2 separate regions of the Homo sapiens genome follow, and region 1 is linked to region 2. A link means that fine-mapping ties the variant in region 2 to the plasma level of a protein whose gene starts in the linked region. Region 2 holds a variant in brackets. A gene starts in the other region. All regions are shown on their reverse strands.

Region 1 (11,007 bases), not on the chromosome of region 2:
GGCTGCGCGCGGCGCTTGCGGGCCAGCTGGAGTTCCGGGTGGGCGTGGGCTTGGCGGGCCCCGCACTCGGAGCAGCCGGCCGGCCCTGCCGGCCCCGGGCAATGAGGGGCTTAGCACCCGGGCCAGCGGCTGCAGAGGGTGTACTGGGTCCCCCAGCAGTGCCAGCCCACCGGCGCTGCACTTGATTTCTCACCGGGCCTTAGCTGCCTTCTCGCGGGGCAGGGCTCGGGACCTGCAGCCCGCCAAGCCTGAGCCTCCCACCTCTCCCCCGCCATGGGCTCCTGTGCGGCCGAGCCTCCCCGATGAGCGCCACCCCCTGCTCCAAGGCGCCCAGTCCCATCGACCACCCAAGGGCTGAGGAGTGCGGGCGCAAGGGCGCGGACTGGCAGGCAGCTCCACCTGCAGCCCCAGTGCAGTGATCCACTGGGTGAAGCCAGCTGGGCTCCTGAGTCTGGTGGGGCCGTGGAGAACCTTTATGTCTAGCTCAGGGATTGTAAATACACCAATAGGCACTCTGTATCTAGCTCAAGGTTTGTAAACACACCAATCAACACCCTGTGTCTAGCTCAGTTTGTGAATGCACCAATCGACACTCTGTATCTAGCTGCTCTGGTGGGGCCTTGGAGAACCTTTATGTGGATACTCTGTATCTAACTGATCTGACGGGGACGTGGAGAACCTTTATGTCTAGCTCAAGGTTTGTAAACGCACCAATCAGCGCACTGTCAAAACAGACCACTCGGCTCTACCAATCAGCAGGACGTGGGTGGGGCCAGATAAGAGAATAAAAGCAGGCTGCCCGAGCTAGCAGTTGCAACCGGTTGCGAGTTGCTTTCTGTGCTGTGCAAGCTTTGTTCTTTCGCTGTTTGGGTCCACGGTTCTTTTATGAGCTGTGATACCGCGGAAGTCTGTAGCTTCACTCCTGAAGCTAGCAAGACCACAAGCTCGCCGAGAGAAACGAGTAACTCTAGACGTGCCATCTTAAAAGCTGTAACACCGCGAGGGTACGTGGTTTCATTCTTGAAGTCAGTGAGACCAAGAACCTATCAATTCTGGACACACGATCTCGGCTCATTGCAATCTCTGCCTTTGGGTTCAAGTGATTCTCCTGCTTCAGCCTCCTGAGTAGCTAGGATTACAGGCTAGTGCCACCACACTAAGCTAATTTTTGTATTTTTAGCAGAGATGGGGTTTCATCATGTTGGGCAGCCTGGTCTTAAGCTCCTGACTTCAGGTGATCCACCTGCCACACACTTCCAAAGTGCTGGGATTACAGGTGTGAGCCACTGTGCCTGGCCTCTTACTGGTTTCTTTGCTTGATAATATGTTGCAAATATATAACATTATTCACATAGAAATCTTTTTCTGAAGGCGTAAATACTGACATATTGGGGAGGTTTCTTTTTCTTCTTGGTTTTTATTTTATCTTAGAGGTAGGGTCTTTGTCACTCAGGCTGGAGCACCGTGGCTTGATTATAGCTCACTGCAGCCCTGATCTCTAAGGCTCAGGTGATTCTCCCACCTCAGCCCCTCAAGTAGTTGGGACTACAGGTACATGCTACCATACCTGGCTAATTTTTGTTTGTTTGTTTGTTTGTTTTTTTTTTTTTGGTAGAGAGAAGGTCTCACTATGTTGCCCAGGCCTCAAGTAATCCTCCTGCCTTTGCCCCACAAAGTGCTGGGATTACAGGTGTGAGGCATTGTGGCCAGCCAATAAGTTTTAAGTGGAAGAGAGTGGTTGTCTTTTAATGTTATAGCTGGAGTGATTTGGTGATTTCCTGGCACACAGGTTTTTAAAAGCATGTACACAATAGGGTTTGTTTTCTTGCTACTACTGGAATCCTCCTGCCACAATGTACGTAAATCCAGGCTAATCCGCTAGAGGATGACCAAAGAGAGACGTGAATCAGCCAGCCCCACCCAGCCCACCAGCTTATTGCAGAGTGAGCTCAGCTGAGATGGAACCGATCCGATCCAATCCAAACCAGAATCACCCAGTGGTGTTCAGCCCAAATTGCTGACTCTCGGGAACTATGAACTAATTGAATAGCTGTGTATTTTAAGTTTTAAGTTAATTGATTATACAGCAAAACCTAACTGATGCCCTGTCCTGATTCCAAACACTGGGTACTCATGTTAAAAGAGCATCACCGGCCAGGCATGCTGGTTTACATCTGTAATCCTAGCACTTTGGGAGACCAAGGCAAGAGGATCACCTGAGCCCAGGTGTTCGAGATCAGCCTGGGAAATAACATAGCGAGACCCTGTCTCTACAAAAAAAATTTAAAAGATCCCCAGGTGTAATGACGTGTATCTATAGTCCCAGTTACTCGGGAGGCTGAGGTGGGAGGATCACTTGATCCCAGGAGGTCAAGGCTACAGTGAGTGAAGGTCGAGACACTGCACTTCAGTCTGGGCAACAGACTGATATCCTGTCTCAAAAACAAAAAATGGCCAGGCATTGTGGCTCACACCTGTAATCCCAGCACTTTGGGTGGCTGAGGTGGGCGGATCACCTGAGGTTGGGAGTTCAAGACCAGTCTGACCAACATGGAGAAACCCTGTCTCTACTAAAAATACAAAATTAGACAGTCGTGGTGGCGCATGCCTGTAGTCCCAGCTACTCGGGATGCTGAGGCAGGAGAATTGCTTAAACCCGGGAGGTGGAGGTTGCAGTGAGCCAAGATTTAGCCACTGCACTCACTCCAGCCTAGGTGACCAGAGAAAGACTCCATCTCAAAAAAAAAAAATATTTCTGTTTCTCACTCAGCCAGTTTCCATCTCAGCTGGGCCAGCTGCACTCCACCTGGTCCTCAAGCTAATAGATTTCACTTCCCTGAAGGCCCACAAAATCTTTTTTTTCTCTTTTTTTTTTCGTTGACACAGAATCTCACTCTGTCACCCAGGCTGGAGTGAAGTGGTACGATTACGGCTCACTGCAATCCCTGCCTCCCAAATTCCAGTGATTCTCGTGCCTCAGCCTCCTGAGTAGCCGAAATTACAGACGTGTGCCACCATGCTTGGCTAATTTTTTGGATTTTTAGTAGAGATGGGGTTTCACTATGTTGGCCAGGCTAGTCTTGAACTCCTGGCCTGAAGCAATCCGCCCACCTCAGCCTCCCAAAGTGCTGAGATTATAGGCACGAGCCACTACACCTGGCCACAAAATTCTTTAAAGAAGCCAATCCCATCCTCCCTCAAGAGCCAAGGGGCCACCTCACCCTCTTGTTACAGCAGATCCTGCCTCCCACAGTCACCCTGCTCCCAAGTGCAACCTCTGTCTGACCCTGCATGGTGTGCGGTGCCCTCCTGCCTCAGGCCGTGAGTACATGCAGCTGAACTGCTGTCAGTCTTATCTGTCCAGTGTCGGGTGTTGTGTGTCCAGCCACCCATAACCCTGGGTTGGGACTCCCTCCCTCACCAACCGGGGGAAGAAGTAGTGAGCAAACCATCTACCAATTCTTATCTAGATTTATCCTCTTCAGCTGTAGCTTTTGCAATACTCTGGTCATACTCAAAGCATTCTGCTGGGATGTCACCTGAGCTGGGCCTACATGCAATTCTGCTTTTCTTCTGAGAAAATAATTTGTCATTCTTTCTGCTTTTATAATTTGTTCTATTTTAAATTATTTTTCTCATTTTTGCCTTTGCTCCTTTCTTCTCAGCATTGTATACTCAAAGGAATACCCTCATACTCTACATTTTAATCCAAGACAGAGGAAAGCAACAGGGAGAACCCCTGAGGCAGGGGCAGAGGGAGGTTCAGGGAACTGTAAATGGGAGGTAGACAAGAGACCAAACAGGACTTTAAGTTGTTTCAGCAAGTATACAGCTTAGAAAGGATCTCATTGGTCTGGGTCCTAAAATATCTCAAAGGATGGCTGCTAACTCAAAACTTTTTTTTTTTTGAGACTGAGTCTTGCTCTGTCACCCAGGGTGGAGTGCAGTGGCACGATCTCGGCTCACTGTAAGCTCCGCCTCCCGGGTTCAAGCAATTTTCCTGCCTCAGCCTCCTGAGTAGCTGGGACTACAGGCATGCACCACCACACCTGGCTAATTTTTGTATTTTTAGTAGAAACGGGGTTTCACCATGTTGGCCAGGATGGTCTCGATCTCTTGACCTCGTGATCCGCCCACCTCAGCTTCCCAAAGTGCTGGGATTATAGGCATGAGCCACCGTGCCCAGCTCAAAACTTTTTTCTCACTACTCTACAATTAAATCTCAGTTGAACTCTGGGAAGATTCTGGAATACCTAGGTTCTTTCTTTCTCAGTGTCTATTTCACCAGTAGTTGTAACCATCCTTCAACCAAACATCTCCATTTGAGTAGCATAGGCTATAATGGATTTTCTCTATTTAAGATTACTCAGCAGTGGCCGGGCACGTGGTGGCTCACAACGGTAACCCCAGGACTTTGGGAGGCTGTATTAGTCCGTTTTCATACTGCTGATAAAGACATACCTGAGACTGGGCAATTTACAAATGAAAGAGGCTTTTTTTTTTTTTTTTTTGGAGATGGAGTTTTGCTCTTGTTGCCCAGGCTGGAGTGCAACGGCAGGAGGTCAGGAGTTCGAGACAAGCCTGGCCAGTATGATGAAACCCTGTCACTACTAAAAATACAAAAATTAGCTGGGCATGGTGGCACATGCCTGTAGTCCCAGCTGCTCGGGAGGCTGAGGCAGGAGAATCGCTTGAACCCGCGAGGCAGAGGTAGTAGTGAGCTGAGATTGCACCACTATACTCCAGCCTGGGTGGCAGAGTGAGACCCTGTCTAGAAAAAAAAAAAAAAAAAAAAAAAAAAGACAATCAGACCTGCAACCATGAACTGTTTTTCATGTATTTCTCGATTTCCTTGTTTGTGTTTCCTTATTTCTGAACATGATGTATGTTTTAAATTGAAAGCTTTAGCTCACTGCAGAGTCTCCTAAGTCACATCTCTTCCTTTGCAAGAGTAGGCGAAGAAGGATCTAAGGGCTTGGCTTGTTTGAAAGAACCACACCCCGAAAGTAACATCTTTGGAGAAAGTGATACAAGAGCTTCTGCACCCACCTGATAGAGGAAGTCCAAAGGGTGTGCGCACACACAATGGTGCCTGAAGAAGAGCCTCAAGACCGAGGTAAGCACTCATCTTCTCAGTTCTAGGGAAGGTAGTAGGAGCAGGATGGAGTGGGAAACAGGCATTGAGGTGATAGGGATGACTTTGGAAGAAGAAGTAGACAGCTTTTCATAAATAATAGTAATTTCAGTATGGAAACAGGTATGGACCCAAGATACTTGGATCAGGGAAAGATGAAAGAAAAAAAGAAAGGCCGGGCGGGCGCGGTGGCTCACGCCTGTAATCCAGCACTTTGGGAGGCCGAGGTGGGCAGAGCACCTGAGGTCAGGAGTTCGAGACCAGCCTGACCAACATGGAGAAACCCTGTCTCTACTAAAAATAGAAAATTAGCCAGGCGTGGTGGCACATGCCTGTAATCCCAGCTACTTGGGAGGCTGAGGCAGGAGAATCACTTGAACCTGGGAGGCGGAGGTTGCAGTGAGCCGAGATCGTGCCATTGCACTCCAGCCTGGGCAACAGGAGTGAAACTCCATCTCAAAAAAAAGAAAAAAAGAAAAACAACTCGGGCCTAGAAGGCCTTAAAGGAATATGAATTTGGCCAGGCATGCAGGCAAATGCCTAAAGTCCCAGCTACTCAGAGGTTGAGGCAGGAGGACCACTTAAGCCTGGAAGTTTGAGGCCAAGGCTGTGCAATTCAAGGGAAAAGAGAGTAAGGAATTGGAAAGTACAGTTTACTCTGAGAGTTTTGCCTGGATTTGTCTTGGGTTCCAGGGTACTATCTGGTCATTTGTTCTGAGATAATTTCTATAATCTCTTTTTGCTTTCACATTTTTTCTGTTTTAATTAGTTTTGATCATAGCCTGACTTTATTATTCTAAGATTTTTGGGACTCTGGTTTCCTGGCTCTTTGGCAGTGGGGATTATGACTGTGCATTTGTCATGCTGATCTGACAGAGAAAGGACTCTGGTGGTTCCAGTTGAAGGTCTGGTCCATGGCAGTCGTATCCATCTTGCTCCTCAGTGTCTGTTTCACTGTGAGTTCTGTGGGTAAGTTCTTGGCTGGAGTGCAGTCATCTCTTGGTCCTTTTCCCAATCACATTTTATCAATTTCCTGAAGAAACACGTTCCTCTTTCTTTTTTTTTCTTTTTTTTTTTTTTTTTTTTGAGACGGAATCTCGCTCTGTCGCCCAGGATGGAGTGCAGTGGCGTGATCTCGGCTCACTGCAAGCTCACCTCCCGGGTTCATGCCATTCGCCTGCCTCAGCCTCCCGAGTAGCTGGGACTACAGGTGCCCGCCACCATGCCTGGCTAATTTTTTGTATTTTTAGTAGAGACGGGTTTTCACTGTGTTAGCCAGGGTGGTTTCGATCTCCTGACCTCGTGATCCGCCCACCTTGGCCTCCCAAAGTGCTGGGATTACAGGTGTGAGCCACCGCGCCCGGCCACGTTCCCCTTTCTTGACATAAAATGGCAACCCTAACTGAGAAGGCTATGTTTCTAATAAAATGAGTTATTACTATTATTAATTATTCTGGATAATTGTGTGTACTTCCAGGTTTCTTTGCCTGGTTTTAGTTGCATTTTTCAAATGTGATCATAACTGTCTTGGTCAGCTTGGGCTGCCATAACAAAATACCATAGACTGGGCCAGGCGTGGTAGCTCATGCCTGTAATCCCAGCACTTCGGGAGGCCAAGGCAGGCAGATCACCTGAGGTCAGGAGTTCAAGACCAGCTTGGACCATATAGTGAAACCCTGTCTCTACTAAAAATACAAAAATTAGCTGGGTGCAGTGACTCGCGCCTGTAATCCCAGCTACTTGGGAGGCTGAGGCAGGAGACTCAGTTGAACCCAGGAGGCAGAGGTTGCAGTGAGCCGAGATCACGCCACTGCACTCCAGCCTGGGTGACAGAGTGAGACTCTGTCTCAAAAAAAAAAAAAAAAAAAAAAAAAAGCATAGACTGAGTGAGTTAAAAAACAGATATTTATTTTCTGATGGTTCTGGAGGCTGGAAGTCTGACATGAGGATGTCAGGATGGTTGGGTATGGTGAGGTCCCTCTTCCTGGCTTACAGCTGATGCCCTCTTGCTGTGTCCTCACATGATGGAGGGAGTGCTAGCTCGTCACGGTTTCTTCTTATAAGAGCATTCATCTCACCATGAGAGCCCCCCCTCATAACCTCATCTAAACCTGATTTCCTCCCAAAGCCCCTATCTTCAAATACCACAAATTGGAGCTTGGGACTTCCATATATGAACTTGGGGAGGACGCAATTCATTCTATAACAATAACTCCACTTTGATGGGTGTGCTGATGGTGGGTACCATCTAGTTGATCTGCTCCTTTGTTTTAAAAAAGTCTCTATTGGGAACATAACTATTATTCTTTCTATGATGCTATAATTGTATTACTGTGGGGTTTTAATCTTCATGTGAGATTCTTCCCAACATGACAGGAAAAATTGTTCATATGGCCAGGCAGTGGCTCACACCTGTGAGCACTTTGGGAGGCTCAGGTGGGAGGATCGCTTGAGGACAGGAGTTCAAGACCAGCCTGGGCAACAGAATGAGACCCTGTCTCCATAAAAAATAAAAAATATAACTTGGCATGGTGGCATGTGCCTGTGGTCCCAGCTACTCAGGAGGTTGAGGCAGGAGGATCGCTTGAGCCCAGGAAGTTGAGGCTGCAGTGAGCCATAATCGTACCACTGCAATCCAGCCTGGGCGACAGAGAGACCCTGTCTCAAAAAATAAAAATAAAAATAAATGTTTATACAGTGATACAATGGAAAAATAAACAAAGTAAACTATTATTTAATTGCTACTCCCTTTGCCAAGTTTTATATTTTTGTGACACCTGAGAAATTTCCCAACTCTCTTGTTTACTATTTGGGTGTCAAAATGTGCTCTATTATCTAATATTATGATTAGAAACAGAAATGAAACATCTGTGAGGAAGTTACTGAATACGATGACTTCCTATGTCAAGTAAAAATGTGTTGATGATACAGTCTTCAGTTTCTTTCTAGTTGTAAATACATCTCACAGTTTTCAATGTAACCCCAAGAGGCAGAATTATTACTAAAGTTAAACTTTGCTTTGCTTTTTATAACAAAGGGCAAGAGACAAAAGGGCTTAAAGATGTGATATGGTTGGGATAGTTGTCCCTTCCAAGTCTCATGTTGAAAATTTGAAATTTGGAAGGGACAACTATCACTTGAAATTTGAAATCCCCACTGTTGGAGGTGGGGCATGGCAGGAGGTTTTGAGTGATGCAGATGGATCCCTCATGAATGGCTTGGCACCCTCCTCGAAGGAATAAGTGAGTTCTTGCTCTGAGTTGGGGTGAGATCAGCCCCTCCCCCTCACTCTCTCTTGCACCCTCTCTTGCCATGTGATATGCCAGCTCCCGCTTTGCCTTCCACTATGACTGAAAGCTTCCTGAGGCCTCACCAGAAGGTGAGCAGATGCTGGCACCATACTTACTGTACAGTCTGCAGAACTGTGAGCCAGTAAAATGTCTTTTCTTTATAAATACCAAGTCTCAGGTATTCCTTTATAGCAATGCAAAAACGGACTAATACAAGATGGTTATTTAATTATCTGAGAGGAAAGAAGACATGCAAGAACTTAAAGACATAAATTCAGAGAAAATAGAAGAGTTTGACTAGGTTTAGTCTCAAAATCAGAATGATGAAATACATGAATAAAGAATTAAGGCCGGGCGTGGTGGCTCACTTTGGGAGGCCGAGGCGGACGGATCACGAGGTCAGGAGATCGAGACCATGGTGAAACCCTGTCTCTACTAAAAAAAAAATACAAAAAAAATTAGCCGGGCGCGGTGGCGGGCGCCTGTAGTGCCAGCTACTCAGGAGGCTGAGGCAGGAGAATGGCATGAACCCAGGAGGCGGAGCTTGCAGTGAGCCAAGATCGCGCCACTGCACTCCAGCCTGGGCGACAGAGCAAGACTCCATCTCAAAAAAAGAAAAAAAAAAAAAAAGAATTAAGTGAGGATAAGTGAAAAGTCAGATCTTGCTCTATGTGCCTGCCAGTGAACAAAAGAGACCGTTTTTAGCAAAAGATGTCTAAATGTCTCCAAAGGGTTAGGTTTTACCTTATATTTAATTTGACCCAAATGGTTTACTTACAGTTACAGCCATCAGAAAACTATGGAAAAACCAAAAGACCTGTGATATTTCAGGATTAATAGAATTAGATGCTGTTACCTAGTAAGTCAACAAATGCTTACTGAACACCTACTATGAGCAGGCCACTTTTCTAGGTGCTGGGTATATAGCGTGAATACAATGAAATTCCTTCACTAGACTGTATGTTATTGTAGGGGGAAATCAAGATATATACGTATGTAAACTTATAAACAAACAAGATAAATGAATATAAGATAGGGTTAAGAACATATTTTTTACTGGACCTGCACAGAAAGAAGCATGAGAAAAAAACAGTACGGCTTGAAATGGGATGGGCAAGAGAGAGATGTTGCAGACTTTGTAAGAGCATAACGTTTATTTATTTATTTATTTATTTATTTATTTATTTATTTATTTATTTTTGAGATGGAGTCTCGTTCTGTTGCCAGGCTGGAGTGCAGTGGTGCGATCTCGGCTCACTGCAACCTTCGCCTCCCAGGTCGAAGTGATTCTCCTGCCTCAGCCTCCTGAGTAGCTGGGATTAATAGACACGTGTCACCACGCCTGGCTAATTTTTGTATTTTTAGTAGAGATGGGGTTTCACCATGTCGGTCAGGCTGGTCTCAAACTCCTGACCTCATGATCCACCCACCTCGGCCTCCCAAAGTGCTGGGGATTACAAGCATGAGCCACTGTGCCCAGGCTTTTTTTTTTTTTTTTCGAGACAAAGTCTGGCTCTATTGCCCAGGCTAGAGTGCAATGGCACGGTCTCTGCTCACTGCAACCTCCACCTCCCAGGTTCAAGTGATTCTCCTGCCTCAGCCTCCTGTAGCTGGGATTACAGGCATGTGCCACCATGCCCACCTAATTTTTGTATTTTTAGTAGAAACAGGGTTTCACCATGTTGGCTGGGCTGGGCTTGAACTCCTGACCTCAGGTGATCCACCCGCCTTGGCCTCCCAAAGTACTGGGATTACAGGTGTGAGCCACCATGCCCAGCCGTAAAGTCATAAGATTCTTTATTTTTATTTATTTATTTATTTATTTTTTTGAGATGGAGTTGCACTCTTGTCACCCAGGCTGGAGTGCAATGGCACGATCTCGGCTCACTGCAACCTCTGTCTTCCAAGTTCAAGTGATTTTCCTGCCTCAGCCTCTTGAGTAACTGGAATTACAGGCGCCTGCCACCACCCTTGGCTAATTGTTTTTTTGAGACACAGTCTTGCTCTGTCGTCCAGGCTGGAGTGCAATGGCGCGGTCTCGGCTCACTGCAACCTCTGCTTCCTGGGTTCTAGCAATTCTCTTGCCTCAGCCTCCCAAGTAGCTCGGATTATAGGTGCCCGCCACCACACCCAGCTAATTTTTGTATTTTTAGTAGAGACGGGGTTTCACCATGTTGGTCAAACTCCTGACCTCAAGTGATCCAACCAGCCTCGGCCTCCCAAAGCGCTGGGATTACAGGTGTGAGCCACTGTGCCTGGCCACCTGGATAATTTTTATATTTTTGGTGGAGACGGGGTTTCACCATGTTAGCCAGGCTGGTCTCTAACTCCCGACCTCAAATGGTCCTCCCACCTCGGCCTCCTAAAGTGCTGAGATTACAGGCGTGAGTCACTGTGCCTGTCCACAGCATAAGATTGTATAGTACAACATAGATCCACTTAAAAGAATGAGAACTAACTCCGATTTCTCTTTCCCAGTGCCTCACAATTTTATGTATAGCAAAACTGTCAAGAGGCTGTCCAAGTTACGAGAGTATCAACAGTATCATCCAAGCCTGACCTGCGTCATGGAAGGAAAGGACA
Region 2 (10,688 bases):
CCCCACATCATACCCCCCCTGCAGCACATGCCTGAGAGACCCCCCGGCTTGTGGGTTTGCTGAGTCACCCACAGCCTTCCTGGGGTTTCTGGGTGTCCCAGGACCCTCAGATGCCCTGCTACAGACCCCAAGGCCCCTTCCCCAGGGTCCAGCATCCAAACCCCCTGGGGGCTAGCGAGAAGGAACTTCCAGGAGGAGCCGAGTGAGCAGAGGGAAGAAAGGAAGCACGACTGGAGGGCTGAAGCAGGTCCCTGGACATGGTGGGGCAGCCGGAAGGCGGTTGGAGGCCGGACCCCTGCCTGCAGGGCCAGCTTGCCTGGGTGCTGAATGATAAACCTCATGCTGTGACAGCAGGAGGCGGCTCAGGGGCCCAGCATGGAGCCCCCTCCCCTGAGCTGCCTGATGGGGGGACTCAGCTTGGTGGTCTTCCCTGCCCCCACCTCTGAGCTGCCCGATGTGGGGTTTCAGCCTGACGGTCTTCCCTGCCCCCATTTCTCCTCCATGACCTTCAGCTTTCTCCCAAGAAGCCCTACCCTCTCGGGCCGGCCAGGTTGGACCCCCTTAGACGGATAAGGCCAGGTTGGACCCCCTTAGCCGGGTCAGGCCTGCAGGCGACAGCCAGGAAGGGGCTGGACCCTGGACCCACCCCCACGCCAAGCACCACAGACATGTGCTCCGAGCTCAGGTGGCTGGAACTGCCAGGGAGGTCCCAGAGCCTCAGGGAAGTCCCTCCACCCACCCATGGGGAGAGACAACCGTTGCAATGACAGAGTCACAGTGCTGGCTCACCCTGTCCCCAAGCAGACCCCGGGGCAACCTCGTCCCTCCAGATCCCCTCGGGGACAATCGGAGCAGACCCAGGACAGCCCCAGGTGCCCCACGCACAGATCCTGGGTGGGTGAGGATTTCTGACAAGCTCCCAGGGTCAGGGACTGCGCTCTGAGAACCCTCGGACTCCCCTCCCAGACCCCTCTCACTTTCCTCGGTGTCTGGAGTCGGGACTGAACATGGGCGCAGGGTCAGGGACTGCGCTCTGAGAACCCCTGGACTCCCCTGCCCGACCCCTCTCACTTTCCGCGGTGTCTGGAGTCAGGACTGAACACGGGCAGAGTGGGAAGGGTGTTTTAGGCCAGGGCACCCAAAGGCGCCTTAAAAGAATCTGATGTTTAAAATGTTTCAAGTTCAGTGAAGCAGAGTGCTTGATCCACAAGCCTGTGTTATATCCTCTAAGCTTGTGTGTGTCTGAAAACAAGGTCAATAGAAACCTAACTATTAAAAAGCCATGAGGCCGGGTGCAGTGGCTCATGCCTGTCATCCCAGCACTTTGGGAGGCTGAGACAGGAGAATCGCTTCAGCCACGAGTTTGAGACCAGCCTGGGCAACATAGTGAGGCCCCATCTCTACAAAACATAAAAAATTAACCAGGCATGGTGGCGGGCGCCTCTGGTCCCAGCTATTCAAGAGGCTGATGCAGGAGATTCGCTTGAGCCCAGGGGGTGGAGGCTGCGGTGAGCCAAGATCGCACTGCTGCACTCCAGCCTGGGTGACAGAGCAAGACCCTGCCTCAGAAAAAATAAATAATGGAAGCAAAACACAAAGTTTTTTTCTTATTGGATACAGGCCAGTTTGTCTTCCAGTTCAGCTCTAAGATACAATAACAGTGCTGTGATCGTCCATCACACTCACAATCGCCCAGGACGCGAATGGTTAGGGTCCTGCAGCCTCTTCAGGGACGAAGTCCACGTTTGGAGCAGGTCAGGCTGCATGGTTCTTAACCCAAGACTCCCAGATCCTTCCGGATCCTTCCGGGTGCCTGGAATATCCTTGGGCCTCTTGGCCAGACCTAGCTGGGTCTTCCGTGGCCCCAGGCCCCACTGCAGCCCGAAGTAGCCACTGGTGGGAGGCAGGAGCTTGGCACTGCTTGGGGGAGGTGTCTATGACGCAGGAGGTGGCACCCTGGCTCTGGAGGGCGGGCGGCTGCCTCTCCCCACGCACCACGCGCCACGCGCCACACACACAGAACCACACACCAGCCTCTTGGTATTTTCCTCATGTTGGATGCCGCTCGATGGCCCAGGTTTACCCAGTTCCCAGGCTCCGGGCTGAGAACAGAATGTTCCAGAATGTTCTAGAACATTGGTGGGTAGGCCAGGGCCACGTTCTTCCCTCTTAAGCTGCTGTGAACACCCAGGCAGGACGGAGGGGAGGAGAGGAAGAGCACAGGGCAGGGGTTCCCTCGTTCATTCCTTCTGCTGCACACACACCACCCCCCGTCGGCAGAGCCGTGGACTCGCGGACTCACAGGAGATGAGATGAGGGCAGGTCACCGGTGTGGGGCCTGCGGACTAGACATGGCACCAGCACAGGGGCAGCCGCCTCAGCCTGAGTCAGAGGGAAACCGGGGCGGCACCGGCACGTCGCAGCCCTCACCCCGCCTGGGCTCCTTACAGGGAAAGTGGCCTCCGGACGGGGCTTCCCCCTTTGCAGCTGGGGTGCAGCAGCCCAGGACCCTGGGACCCCCAGGGAGGCTGGGACTTTCCCCTCTGGGAGCCTCGGTTTCCTGTTCTGCAGAACGGGCAGCCTTGCCGGGTCTTGATGCCTCCTGGGCGCTGGGGAGGAGCAGAGACCACGGTGGGCAGAGGGCTCCGTGTCCTGGAAGCTGGGTGGGTGTAGCCACAGCAGGCTCTCTGCCTCAGGGAGAGGACTGGCTTAGACCCAGCCTGAGTCCCAAATCCCACCGCTGGTGACCTGGGAAATTGCTTAACCTCTCCAGTCCTGTCAGACACCGAATATATGCCACCAGGTCACCAGCGTCCCCCGCAAGTCCAGGGTGCTCAGGAAGCGGGGGCGACGCTGTTGCTGCCCTGATGCTCAAATTCCTGTCTCTGTTCAGACTCCACCCTGCTGGGCTCAGCCCCATGCGCTTCAGGAGGGGAGGAGGATGCCAGCCAAGGGAACAGCGGGTCCTGTGGGGCTGTGGCCTCTGACTGCCGTCAGCTCTCTGTCCCACACCCACTACCCGCCTGGGGTGGCTGATGAGCTGGGGAAGGCCCTCCTGTCCGGGCAAAGGCCACTGAGCCCCCTAGGCCTTGGGGGCTGCCCCAGGGTCCCAAGGCTGCGCTGGGCGGCCGGGCCTGGAGTCTCAGCCCATCCTGCTCTTCGGAAGCAGCTGGGGAGACCGGCCATTTCCTCTGTGTTCCCTGGGATGTGTGTGGGGCAGAGCCCCAGGGGAGTCCTGAGGGCGAGAGAGGTGGAATTCAGCCTAGAGAAGTTCCAGGTGTCGTGTGGGGGACCCAGAGGTGGGTGTGCCAAACTCCGCCAGCCAGTCATCACCCATGGAGCCCTGCGCCTTGTGCCGGGAACACAGCCCTTGGAGACAGGCAAGGTTCCCGCCCAGGGCTGCTTTCCTGTGGGTCCAAGGAAACCAGCCCACAGCAACTGCAACCCAAGGTGCTAATGCTGTGATGGAGGCGTGCAGGGGGCATGGAGCCCAGGAAGGTGTGAAGGGGGTGTGGAACCCAGGAAGGTGTGCAGGGGGTGTGGAGCCCAGGACAGGACAGGGCACTTCCTATGGGCTCTGAGGGCTGGGTAGGAGCCCGCCACGTGAGGCAAGTTTCGATGGGAGGGCTGGGGAAGGCCCAGAGATGAGGAAACACCCTCAGGAGAAGCGGCTCTGATGTAGGGTTGGGGCAGAGTGTGGAGGGGCCCCCAGCCACCTTCAGGGTCTGGCCTTGATCTTGAGGGAGGTGGGCAGCCACTGAAGGTTTAAGAGGAGGGGCGGGGCAGCCACATCACAATTGAAGCAGGTCTCTTGCCATGGGGGCGGGAGGGCTGTGGGGGAGGAGGCTGTGGGGGAGGAGGCTGTGGCTGACTCCAGGGGGCGGCGGTGGGGCTGGGAGAGCCCTTTCTCCCTTCCAAAGCACTCTTCCGGAGAGGGGCCGCATCTGCAGGGATGCCGACCTGAGCTCAATTTAGGAAGAGCTTTCTAGCAGCAACGCGCCTGCCCCGGAGGCGGCCATGGCCAGAAGGCGGTGTGGGGATTCCACTGTCCCCCTGGGCTGGCCCCTTCACGGCTCAGGGATCTCGCAGGGGTCACAGCTGCCCGTCCGTGCTTGCCCACCTTCACGGGCACCATAGGAGAGTCCAAACGTGGACGGTTTTATTAAATCCTCACCACACCCCCATTCAGCTGACTCTGTTACCTTCTTACTTTACAGTTGGGGAAACGGGTCAAGACATTTGCCCAAGCGTACCCAGCACAGACAGGAAATGCTGAGTGTGAACCAGGGGCCTGTGACTTCGAGACCCTCAGTGGGGTTCCGGCTGTCCCACCGGAGACTCCTGGAAGCTGAGGTGGTGAGCGGGACCGGGGGACACCTTCGAGGGAAGCTGGAACCGCGGTTCTTTCCTTGGAATTCAGGGGATCCGTGGACTTGGATGAGTTTCATCTGGCATTGTGTCGTGTCTCTAACCAAAATTTAGCCTTTCCTGTAACCAAGAACGTGGGCACCTCCCCAGGGTGTCAGCCGCGCCTGTGCCGTTGACACCGATAGAGCTGCCCCAGGGCCACTTTGGTGGGCCCCAAGCAGCCACGCCTTGGGAGGGTCCAGGGCTCCACAAAAGACCCCCCTCGCCTTCCACTCACCACCACGTCTCCTAATGCGGTTCCCACGCCTCACCACTTTAAATCATGGCTTAATGAAAAGCACAGTGCTCACTACACCAGAATGTTCTAACGGGGTGGTAGCTGTATTTTGGTAAAATGGGTTTCCTTCATAATTCTGTGAACTTATTTGCTTACTAGATGCCCAAGGAGTCCACACACCGGGAAGGTGAAGACCCCGATTCCAGTTCCGTGCTCTCATTGGGGTGTCTCCGGCCTGCGCCTCGGCTCGGACTCCCCAGGTAGACCTGCTCTTTCTGGGGGTGGCAGGAGCGCCCAGTAACTGCAGTCTCAGAGCCCTGGAATCCTGCACCACTTTGTACCAGGTTTCCCCAAATCACCCCAGCCCTCCGGCCATGGCACCTTCTCCGTGGTTCTGGGTTTGCTCAGCCGTGCCCTGAGCTGGGGAGTGGCTGAGCATCCAGCTATGAGCCGCTTCACCTGCACTGCCTTGAACACCCGGGGCAGGTTTTTTCCTGCCTCCACCCCCGGCCCCCACTCCCTCTGTGGCTCACCCCAACTGTCCACACCTTATTCAGGACCAGAAAGCCGGGGCAAGGCTCCTCCGTACATGACACTGTTCAGCATCCTCTGGAGCGGCTTCGCGACTTACATTCCTCTCTCCAGGCTTTGTGACTGGGGATGGCACCCTTGTGGGCCTCCTCCCTCCTCTGTAAAGTGGGCTGGCATGAGACTTACATAAAACCATATTACCACTTATTCATTGATCCACCTATCCACCCACCCACCCATCCACCCATCCACCCACCCACCCACCCATCCACCCATCCACCCACCCCTCTACCCATCCATCCACACATTGACCCACCCACCCATCTATCCACCTACCCACCCATTCACCCATGCACCCATCTATTCACCCATCCATCCATCCATCCATTCACCCATCCACCCATCTATCCACCCATCCATCCACCCATCCATCCACCCATCCACCCATTCACCCATCCACCCACCCATCCACCCATCCATCCACCTATCCACCCATCCACCCATGTATCCATCCATCCACTCATTCACCTGTCTATCCACCCATCCATCCCTACCCACCCATTCACTGATCCACTCATCCATCCACCCATCCACGCACCCATTCATCCACCCATCCATCCACACATTCACCCACCCACCGATCCATTCACCTACTCACCCATTCACCCATCTCTCCATCCACCACCCATTCACCCATTTATCCATCCATCCATCCATCCATCCATCCACCCATTCACTCATCTATCCACTCATCCACCCATTCACCCGTCTATCCACCCATCCACACATTCACCCATCTATCCACCCACCCACCCACACACCCATCCACCATTCATTCACCCACACACCCATCCATCCACCTACCCACCCATTCACCCATCTCTCCATCCACCCATCCATCCACACATTCACCCACCCACCTATCCATTCGCCTACTCACCCATTCACCCATCTCTCCATCCATCCACCCATCCACCCATCTATCCATCCACCTACCCATTCACCCATTTATCCATCCATCCTTCCACCTATTCACCCATCTATCCACCCATCCACCCATTCACCCATCTACCCACCCATCCACCCATCTATCCATCCACCACCCATTCACCCATTTATCCATCCATCCATCCATCCACCCATTCACTCATCTATCCACTCATCCACCCATTCACCCGTCTATCCACCCATCCACACATTCACCCATCTATCCACCCACCCACCCACACACCCATCCACCATTCATTCACCCACACACCCATCCATCTACCTACCCACCCATTCACCCATCTCTCCATCCACCCACCCATTTACCCATTTATCCATTCATCCATCCACCCATTCACCCATCTTTCCGCCCATTCACCCATCTATCCATCCACCCACCCATCCACACATCTATCCATCCACCCACCCATCCACCCACTCACTCACTCACCCATCTATCCACCCACTCACCCATCTATCCACCCATCCATCCACCCATTCACTCATCCACCCACCCACCCATCCACCCATCATCTACCCACCCATCCACTCACCCACCCACCCATTCATTCATCAATCTATTCATTCATCTATTCATCCAGCAGTGAAGGGTGTGTGTGTTGGGGGTGGGGGGGTTCCTACATGCTAGAAGAGAAGGCAAACATAAGACACCCTGCCTGAAGGAAGGCCTCCTCACCCACCCCCACATGGCGTCATCTCCCCCACTGCCCCCTCACCCTCCTCCAGTTCTCTGGCCATCCTACAGATTCACCAAAGCCTGCCTTAGGGCCCCTCTGCCCACCCAGGGACAGTTTCCCCAACTGCCCTATGGGCCCCACATGCTGGGCCATGTTGATGGAACGTGTCTCCTATAGTTCCCAGAGAGCAGGACCAGGGGCTGTCTTGGACACCGAAAGAACCCCAGTAGGCCCTAATAGGTCTTTTAGGAAGGAAGGAAAGGCCCCTCCTGCCCCGAGAGGCTGGGTGCTGGCTGCAGACAGCAGAGGTCCCTGGGAGAAGCCGAGGCCCCTCCTGCTGCCCCCACCTCTGCAGCCACTTCCTCCCCAGCCCCTTATCTCCTGGCCGCCCAGCTCTGAAAGCCACAGCCAACGTCTGCTTCCCCACAAGCACCAACTGCCCGGCCTGGGGGAGAGGAGGCCGGTAGTGGGGAGGTGGGGAGTGGTGCCCACACCCCCAGGTGGCCGCCAAAGTTGGGGGGCAGCTCCTGCCCCCAACTTGTGGGCAACTTTCTTCTCTTCTCTTTCCAACCCCACCTCCGTCAGACCCCCTGATTAGACACCAGGCAAGACGGGGCCAGGCGGGGAGCTCAGGGCCTCATTGCGAAAGTGGAAGTGTCCCATCTGTGGGGGGCGCAGGTGCAGGCCTCGAACATCTGCCTCAGGGCTGGGGGCAGGGCTGCCTGTCTCCTACCCC[G/A]GGTGGGGGGAGCCACCACCCTCACCCAGGGTGCTGTCCTGCTGCCTCACGGAGTGGGGGCTGTGCCCCCTGAGACCCTCAGTTCCCCGACTCTGAGACTCTCACTGCACACAGCTGGGGAATAGGCACTGACACAGACCAACCCCAGCCACATGCTCACGGTGGCCCCGGCCCATGTGGCGGCTCAGAGCCTCTGCTGTCTCCACTCCCGGAAACGCTGTAGGAGCTGACGCCGTTAGGATCGTGCACCCTGCACAAATGAGGAAACCAGGAGGGTCAGGGCCCCCAGGACCCTCACTGTGAATCCCACCCTGAGCCAGAGCACAGGGAACAGCAGGGGACGTGGGGACCGAATGATGGCACCAGGGGATGGGCCCCGGGCTGGCAGGAATGTCCCCTCCAGCCTCAGTCCTGGGGGCAGAACGGCCGACCACCCAGGGCAGGGGAGGCCCCGGGTGGGCCTGGCGTCTGGGAAGTTCCCCAGCAGGAACAAACACATCCCCACTGTAAGCTGGACACACACGCTGGCATGCAGCTTGTTGTCACCAACTCGAGAAAGACACTCGACTATTGGGACAGGGAGACCCGGGACACCTGGAGACCCTGCGGGGAAGGAGTCGGCTTTTACTCCTGCACGGCTTGAATTATTAACTGCGTGCAAACGTGACCTAAAACTCAAATCAAATCAAATCAAAATAGCACAGATGCCCGTGAGCCGGCCCTGGGTCTGCGGGCTCCACACCTCTGGCCTGTCTGAGGCCGGGAAACCTCCAGCCATGGCATCAGAAAAGCCACCGAACCAGGGCTGCAGGGCCGAAGGGTCACTGTCCCCTCCCAGGAAGCTCCTGCCCTCTGACAGTTGTCAGGGAGCTTTAGAAAGTGGCTTTTTTTCCCAGCATCTGGGATGTGCCTCACTCTCTCAGCCCAACGGCCGCTAGAAAGGGGTCCTAGGACTCTCCCTAGGGTCTAAGTAGTCCCAAGAGTGCTCTGAGGTGGCTTCTGGAATTTCCCAGACTGGAGAAGCCACCTACCCCCGACCCCCGCAAACTCCAGGCTGCTCACCGGAGGCGGCCGCTGGGGCGTGGGGTGAGGGTCTTTCTGAGGCACCCCCGGAGAGTGGGGGAGCCCTGCTGTCTCCACAGAGGGCCAGGAGCCCTGTGCACGAGGCCAAGCAGAGAGAGAGGGTTTCCTTCCCAGCAGGCGGGAGGTACTTTGAGGACAGGTCAGGTGCCCAAGAACCCCGGAGCAGGGGCTGAGGAGAGGCTGGTCAGAGGCCCCGCCTTGCTCAAGGGCACAGTCAGCAGACACAGGAACACGGGCAGGGTGGCCCCTGGAGCGGGGGCAAACTAAAAGGGGTGCTGGGGAAAGCTCGGCTGACTGAGGGCTAGCGGAGAGGGAGGACACCCCCAGATACCCCAGGCTGAAGGAAGGGCCAAGCCCTGGGGGGAAGATGGGTGGGCGGGACAGGCCAAGGGCTCTGGGCCAGGATGGAGCTGCCCTCAGGCCTGCACACCTGCCCTGGGGCCGAGGAAACACATGCCCAGTGGCCACGCTGTAGGGCTCAGGGTGGGTGGGACGTCACCAGAGCTGCCTGGGAGGAGGAAGTTGTTGGAAGGTCAAACCGGAATGGCCCGAGGGAAGGCCGCGCAGGGCAGGGCCCCAGATGGTTCCTGTCAGGGAAGTGGCGGGCGCAGCTGCAGGCCTCCGGCCCCGGCATTATCACGGGGACACAGCTGGCTGCCTCACCCGCAGGCTGCAGGGAGACCTTCCCCAGCCTGCAGCCCCAGGCCCGCCCCGCGTCACATGAGCCCCAGGGCTCCCACCCCCTCCCCAGGGCAGAGGACACCCAGTTGGTGGCCGGGAGGGCCTCGGCTTTCCAGGGACAGAGGCCCAACTCCAGGACGCCCCAGCTGGCCCAGCCCCTCCTCTTTCCCTCAAGGCTGCAGGAGGTCGGGAAAGGCAGTCCTGGTAGAGGCCTGTCCTGGGCTCCAGGTTGGCCCCTGAGGGTGGCCCTCCTCATGCCGGCTTCAAGACTGAGGGACAGGGCAGCCAGTTCAGCCTCGGGATCCACCTGTGGCTCCATGTCCCAGACGCACCCTGTGCTGGAGAGCGGCCTCCTGGCATCTGCCGGCTGCTCCGCACCCCGGGGTCCCAGGAAGGGCGGCCCAGGTAAGAGGCTCGAGGGGAAGGTGGTGGGGTGGGGGCAGAGAGCGGCAGCCGGTGCCGGGGCTGTGACTCCTTAGAGCTTCGCGGGGCCTGCCCAGCTTAGTTGACAGTGCCGGCACGGATGGCCGTGTTGACTCACCTCAGATATCAACAGGGCCACCCCACAGGCAGGTCCTGCACAGCTGGGGCAGGTGGGCTGGTGAGGGTTTGGCAGGTGCCAGCCAGGTGCCCCAGCCCCACCCAGAGGCAGATGCTGGAGGCCGGGCTGCTCAGCCCCGTCTAGGAGGGTGGGCTGTGTTCTCCTGGGGGTGGGAGGGCCGCAGCCGGGAAGTGATGGGGGGGTCCTAGAAAGAGAGCCCTCCTCCTCCTGGGATGCCCTCCGGGTGTGACACCTCACAGCAGGTTGGATGAGGAAACTGAGGCCAGAGGGGAGGGCACTGGCCCAAGACCCCGGTGAGGAGGAAATGGACCCAACCCTGGGCCCCTGTCCGAGGAACGATTCCAGCCAGGGCAGTGGGGGTTTACGGGGAACCTGGGCCTGCCCTTCTGGGGGCTTCGGGCTCTGGGGAGGGGTCCAGTCCAGCAGGACGCCAGCTATTGCTGATACCCCCCACCCGAGCCTGCGAAGTCCCAGGACAAGGATCCCCGGACGCTGGGGGCTGCAGCTGCAGGCTGGTGGCCCCGATTCCCAGTGGCCCTCGTGGCCACACTCCCAGCAGCCGTCGGAACCTTCAGGAGCTCACAGTCTCCCGTCTCGCGGGGCTCTCACTGAGGCCGTCAGGTCCAAGGTCTGACTGCACCCCTGACACTCACACACAGAACCCGGGACCGAGGGGTGTCCCCATCTCTGGAGACCACATTCCCTGAGCAGGTCCTGGCGGCGGCTGCCTGAGGCTGTTCCCACCTGCAGCTGCCCGTGGGGCCC

Alleles and levels. Positions count from the first base shown, and alleles are read on the strand shown. Strength reflects both the effect of a copy and how common the allele is.
In carriers of allele G in region 2, the plasma level of the protein whose gene starts at base 5,059 in region 1 tends to be higher than with A alone (weak association).

Evidence for each region. PIP is the posterior inclusion probability: the model's chance that the variant is causal. The UK Biobank Pharma Proteomics Project read protein levels with antibody pairs (Olink). The fine-mapping took linkage between variants from a reference panel, not from the people measured, so its PIPs are less certain.
Region 1: it holds the start of CLEC4C, and the variant in region 2 is fine-mapped to the plasma level of the CLEC4C protein (UK Biobank, PIP above 0.99).

What each region holds. Positions count from the first base shown.
Region 1 is chr12:7,741,427-7,752,433 of GRCh38, reverse strand. It overlaps CLEC4C (C-type lectin domain family 4 member C), which reads left to right and starts at 5,059. Exons shown (of 6, transcript NM_001371390.1): 1 at 5,059-5,116; 2 at 6,011-6,103; 3 at 10,903-11,007. The coding sequence starts at 5,086. RefSeq lists enhancers at 2,744-2,823, 3,004-3,183, 3,204-3,283.
Region 2 is chr16:88,975,735-88,986,422 of GRCh38, reverse strand. It overlaps CBFA2T3 (CBFA2/RUNX1 partner transcriptional co-repressor 3), which reads left to right and starts at 9,216. Exons shown (of 12, transcript NM_005187.6): 1 at 9,216-9,766. The coding sequence starts at 9,616. It overlaps LOC124903756 (a long non-coding RNA gene), which reads right to left and starts at 5,360. Exons shown (of 2, transcript XR_007065183.1): 1 at 5,194-5,360; 2 at 4,137-4,467. RefSeq lists enhancers at 2,699-2,758, 2,464-2,964, 8,795-8,844, 10,685-10,688, 10,547-10,688 and a silencer at 4,049-4,251. The variant G/A (reference allele first, on the strand shown) is at 7,598.